Linked DNA regions of Homo sapiens: region 2 is linked to region 1. Evidence: fine-mapped expression QTL. Tissue or cell type: thyroid. Region 1 holds a variant in brackets; the other region holds the start of a gene. All regions are shown on one strand. Distances are from middle to middle. Region 1 overlaps LOC124904783 (a long non-coding RNA gene). Region 2 holds the start of VN1R1 (vomeronasal 1 receptor 1).

What was found. PIP is the estimated chance that this variant, and not a neighbour inherited with it, causes the effect. A credible set is the group of variants that fine-mapping cannot tell apart.
Region 2: VN1R1 starts here. The variant in region 1 is the best candidate, but not a certain one, in a credible set for the expression of VN1R1 in thyroid (GTEx, PIP 0.73).

What each region holds. Positions count from the first base shown.
Region 1 is chr19:57,716,715-57,719,635 of GRCh38, forward strand. LOC124904783 (a long non-coding RNA gene) reads left to right here. Exons shown (of 2, transcript XR_007067359.1): 2 at 453-683. Among named protein-coding and RNA genes, the nearest start is that of ZNF154, 9.0 kb to the left of the region's middle. The variant T/G (reference allele first, on the strand shown) is at 1,649.
Region 2 is chr19:57,455,674-57,458,594 of GRCh38, forward strand. VN1R1 (vomeronasal 1 receptor 1) reads right to left here and starts at 1,467. Exons shown (of 1, transcript NM_020633.4): 1 at 1-1,467. The coding sequence starts at 813.

The sequences.
Region 1 (2,921 bases):
AATGGGAGGTGTTTGGGTGTTTTGCAGGACATTTAGTTATCCCCTCCGACCCACAGACTCCAGGTCCTACTTATATTCTTCCTCCTGTTTGTGAGTGAATCACATAACTTGTGCAATCTCAATCCAAGGACTGGAAGCCAACCTATTCACAAAAAATCTTCCTCACCAGCCTCTACCATATTTCATTCTGCCCAATAACTCCTTAGCCATTATTATTTAAAATGGACTCAGAGATCATAGCAAATATCCCATTTTCATCACCAAATGAAAAAATTTCAAAAATGTAATTGAAAATACTCACAAAACTCCACAGAGAATACTCGCGTGAGGTTTTGTTAAGGCAAAGGATATGGTGCAGCAAGAGAAAGAATGCGTGCCCATATGCTATGTCAGACACAAATCCAGGCAGTTTTCCAGACTCCCATTCATACACTGATATGATTCACTTCCAGATCAAGCCACCAATATCTGAGAGAGAAATGCTGGCTTCAGGAGAGCTCAAGTCAGAGGATCCCAGCAGGGATTTTATACCCTTCTGGGGTAACACAGTTGAGCCAGAGTGCCTACCTAATCATGTATGCCAACCAGAAACCATCAGCAGTCAAACTTGCCCTCCATATTGTCATGGGATCTTCCAGATGTTAAACAATAATAATAAAGCTCACTGCATTTAAATGTCAAAATGAGATACCTAAAGTCCCTACAGACAAAACTAGAGCTTTTCCAGTCCAATTTTAAACTAATTCCATCTCACACAAAACAAGTGCACACTATATCAAAATTTGGGGGATACTGCTAAAGCAGTACTTACAGGGAAATTTATAGCCTATATTATTATACAAGAAGAGAGTTCACAAATAAATGACAGTTCATTTTAAGAAATTAGGAAAACCAGCCAGGCATGCTGGCTCATGCCTGTAATCCCAGTGCTTTGGGATCACTTGAAGCCAGGAGTTCAAGACCAGCTTGAGCAATACAGTGAGACTCCATCTCCAAAAACAAAAACAAACAAAAAAGTTAGCCAGGTGTGATGGCACATGCCTGTAATCGCAGCTACTTAGGAGGCTGAGGATTACTTGAGCCCAAGAGTTCAAGGTTACAGTAAGCTATCATAGTGCCACTGCATTCTATCCTGGGTTGACAGAGAGAGACCCTGTCTCAAAACAAAAAAGAAAACTGGGAAAACACAGACAAATCCTATAGGCAACCCTATATAGACTCTATCCTCTCTTGCCTCTTGCTTCAGGAGCAGCCCTGCCTCAGTGACAGCAAAAAGTGGCAACCAAGAAAGCTATTTCCACATGATTCACCAGGAACACTGGCTAAGTTGCAAAGCCATGTCCCTGAAATGCTAGATCTTCCTTCTTTCAATCTTGGTTTTCCTACCCACTTACACACCCAGCAATGGTCTTTTTTTTTTTCTTTTTTTTTTTTTTTTGAGACAGAGTCTCGTTCTGTCACCCAGGCTGGAGTGCAGTGGTGCGATCTCGGCTCACTGCAAGCTCCGCCTCCTGGGTTCATGCCATTCTCCTGCCTCAGCCTCCCAAGTAGCTGGGACTACAGATGCCCACCACCACGCCTGGCTAATTTTTTGTATTTTTAGTAGAGACGGGGCTTCACCGTGTTAGCCGGGATGGTTTCAATATCC[T/G]GACCTCGTGATCCGCCCGCCTCAGCCTCCTAAAGTGCTGGGATTACAGGCGTGAGCCACTGCACCCAGCCCCAGCAGTGGTCTTGAGTTGAGCCATCTAGAGTCTATGGGAATCCACAAAATGTTTAGATTTGCCCTGGGAGTGATGCTGACCACAAAAGAGACATAGCTGTGGAAGTTCTGAAACTTTCTGTATACTCTCATCCTATATAGCCATAGTATGGGAACATCTGAGCATGTACCTTTAGAAGTGGCACATCCCAGGCCAGGTGCGTGGCTCACGCCTGTAATCCCAGGACTCGGGAGGCCGAGGCAGGCGGATCACCTGAGGTCGGGAGTTTGAGACCAGCCTGACCAACATGGAGAAACCCTGTCTCTACTAAAAATACAAAATTAGGGCTGGGCGCAGTGGCTCACGCCCGTAATCCCAGCACTTTGGGAGGCCAAGGCGGGCGGATCACGAGGTCAGGAGATCGAGACCATCCTGGCTAACATGGTGAAACTCCGTCTCTACTAAAAAATACAAAAGAATTAGCCGGGTGTGGTGGCGGGCACCTTTAGTCCCAGCTACTCGGGAGGTGGAGGCAGGAGAATGGCAAGAACCTGGGAGGTGGAGCTTGCAGTGAGCCAAGATTGCACCACTGCACTCCTGCCTGGGCAACAGAGCCAGACTCCGTCTCAAAAAAAAAAAAAAAAATACAAAATTAGCCGGGCATAGGTGATGCATGCCTATAATCCCAGCTACTCAGGAGGCTGAGGCAGGACAGTCACTTGAACCCAGTAGGTGGAGGTTGCAGTGAGCCAAGATCACGCCATTGCACTCCAGCCTAGGCAACAAGAATGAAACTCCATCTCAAAAAAAAGAAGTGGCACATCCCTTGTAGTGTGCCGCAATCTCCTCAACTCCCTATTAGTCATACCCAGTGTTTCTATACCAATTATAATTACCACCTGGCTCCTAGAGGTCCTCCAGACAAGGACACCTGCCTATTAAATTCTGAACACAGACTCCTTGACAAGAAGCAGGGGCCAGCTTCCCAATAAGTGCTTGGAAATATGGAACACTGGATGGGAACCAGTGACCAAACTCATGCTCCCAGGTGCTCTAGAAGTTGTTACAACTGATCTCTCTTCATGGTTACCTCCAAACCTACAGTAAAACTGGCATCCAGGTCACATGATTTGTCTCCCAAAGCCCTGCAGTCTGTCTTAGAAGGGCTTGAACAGCAACACAAATTAGGTCAAAGCTGTAATCAGAGCTGTTCTCTGCCAT
Region 2 (2,921 bases), 260 kb before region 1:
GGCTCTGGCTTCCTGGGAAGGTCTGCAGGAGAGTCTGTTGCTGTGATTGTGTTGGACTTGCTGCTTGTGTCTGTAGAGGAAGAAGACCATGGAGCCACTGGCCCAGACCATGAAGCCCAAACTCATAAAATCAGGGGAAAAATATAAGACTGCATGTAATGAGCTAAATCTCTTTGATGCTTTGTAAGAACAGTATCCATAATTGTTTTTTGCACTACTGTTTTTGCTATTCAGTGGGCCATTCACTAATAGAAGAACAGATGCATTCATCAAGACATGGGGGGCCCAGCAGAGGAGACAACAGAAGTCAATAAACCTTGGGGATCTAATCTTGATCTCCATCCACCTGCATATACTGGGGTTGAGCTTAATGGCTTGGAATCCATTGAGAAGGCAGATGGTGCTGAGGGAAACTCTTGTGCCCACCCTGTGATAATAAAAGACAAACTTACATCCAGTGTCATTCAGCAAATATTTCAATCCAAAAGCTGCCATTGTCTGAGGTATCCCTTTAAAGAAAAGGACCATGGAGTTAGCCAAGGCCAGTTGGCTGAGAATCAAGTCCGTGGGTCTCAGCTTGTGTCCAGTGAACAAAATTAAGTTATAAAAACAAAGGAGAAAGGAATTTCCCAGGATCCCAACTCCAGTCTGAATGAGGAAGCTAATCCCTGATTTTACTTTTCCAAAAGCCATTTCATCAAAATCTAGGGGATGTTGATTTTCATTGAGGTCTGAAGAATCAGTAGAATAAAAAAGCAGAAAGAAGTATCTTGTCATCAGTGGAGACAGAAGTTTTAATGTGTCTCCAACCATATTTTCTCATCTTAAACAGAAATTAAGATTGTCCCTGTTCGTGCAAAGGCAATTGCTTGTGTGTCCAACTGCAGAGAAGCAGGTGAATGAATGAGGGCTCAACCGCACAACAGATCCACAAATCAAACCTATAAAACTCAGGGCTTACACACATGCAACAAGTAAATACAAGCAAAACTAGGGAAATATATAAAAACAGAACACAGAAGAGTCAATATCATTAGAGTGATATTATACTATAGTTTGCAAAATGTAATCATGACGGAACCCTGGGTAATATGGACAGGGCTTTTTCTGTATTATTTCTTATGACTGCTTGTGAGTCTACACTTATTTCAATAAAACCTTCAATTAAGTAGCCTGGAGATATGAAAAGCAAAAATAATACACCATAAAACCTTTTCCACACTAATATTTTAGTAAACACCATTGTTATTGATGCATTGAAACAAATTTTAGGCCGGGTGCAGTGGCTCACACCTGTAATTCCAGCACTTCGGGAGGCCAAGATGGAGACCATCCTGGCCAACATGGTGAAACCCTGTCTCTACTAATAATACAAAATACTAATAATACAAAAATTAGCCGGGCATGGCGGCGCGTGCTAGTCCCAGCTACTCGGGAGGCTGAGGCAGGAGAATCGCTTGAACCTGGGAGGCAGAGGTTGCAGTGAGCTGAAATCAAACCATTGCCCTCCAGCCTGGGCGACAGAGCGAGACTCTGTCTCAAAAAAAAAAAAAAAAGAAATTAAAAAAACGCTACAATACAATTGGTAACAAGGCCTTCAGCACAGTACAAATGCTAACTTGAAGAATTTTTAAAAACTATAATTTTTGGAACAATCAACATTGCATCATGGTATATTTTATTTTAAGCACATATATTTCTGTTATTTTCCACCGGACAGGTCTAGAGATTGTGAATTGACTCCGTAGAAATAACCATGACCACCTTGAGCCCACACATTTTTATCTCAATGCCATTTCTCACAAGTAAATGCAAAAGATCCTGAAAATAAATACTAATCCCAGAAACACCTAAGATATCCTTAAAACTTGTTAAATAGGAAATTCAATATGTTCCAGAAAGCTTGGGTTTATTTTTAGGGAAAGATAATTCAATTGGGAGGGAATTTCATTGCACAATATTCATATATATCAATCACAAAAGAAATAGTAACTGCGGCCAGGCACGGTGGCTCACGCTTGTAATCTCAGCACTTTGGGAGGCTGAGGCGGGTGGATTACAAGGTCAGGAGATGGAGACCATCCTGGCCAACATGGTGAAACCCCGTCTCTACTAAAAATACAAAAATTAGCTGGGTGTTGTGGTGCGTGCCTGTAGTCCCAGCTACTCGGGAGGCTGAAGCCTCCTGGGTTCACGCCATTCTCCTGCCTCAGCCTCCTGAGTAGCTGGGACTACAGGCGCCCACCACCACGCCCGGCTAGTGTGTGTGTGTGTGTGTGTGTGTGTGTGTGTGTGTTTAGTAGAGACGGGGTTGCACCGTGTTAGCCAGGATGGTCTCGATCTCCTGACCTCGTGATCCGCCCGCCTCGGCCTCCCAAAGTGCTGGGATTACAGGGATGAGCCACCTCGCCCGGCCATAATTTAGATTCTTTTGGTGTCTCTATGGAATTGCTATCATCAGGGAAAATTATGAGGTATTTTCTCCCATGAATAACTACATCTCTTTAGGGGTGGAGCAATCAATAACACAGCAGTATCAAGATTCTCAGGCGAGAGGTGGCTCACGCCTGTAATCCCAGCAGTTTGGGAGGCCGAGGCTGGTGGATCAGCTGAGGTCGGGAGTTCGAGACCAGCCTGACCAACAGGGAGAAACCCCGTCTCTACTAAAAATACAAAAATTAGTCAGAGGTGGTGGCGCATGCCTGTAATCCCAGCTACTCGGGAGGCTGAGGCAGGAGAATCGTTTGAACCCCAGAGGCGGAGGTTGCAGTGAGCCGAGATCATGCCATTGCACTCCAGCCTGAGCAACAAGAGTGAAACTCGGTCTCAAAAAAAAAAAAAAAAAACTCAGGCTCTGAGGTATGAAAACCTTTTAGATTCCCACAAACCACTTGTTGACAAATGTTTTTCCTATTTATATG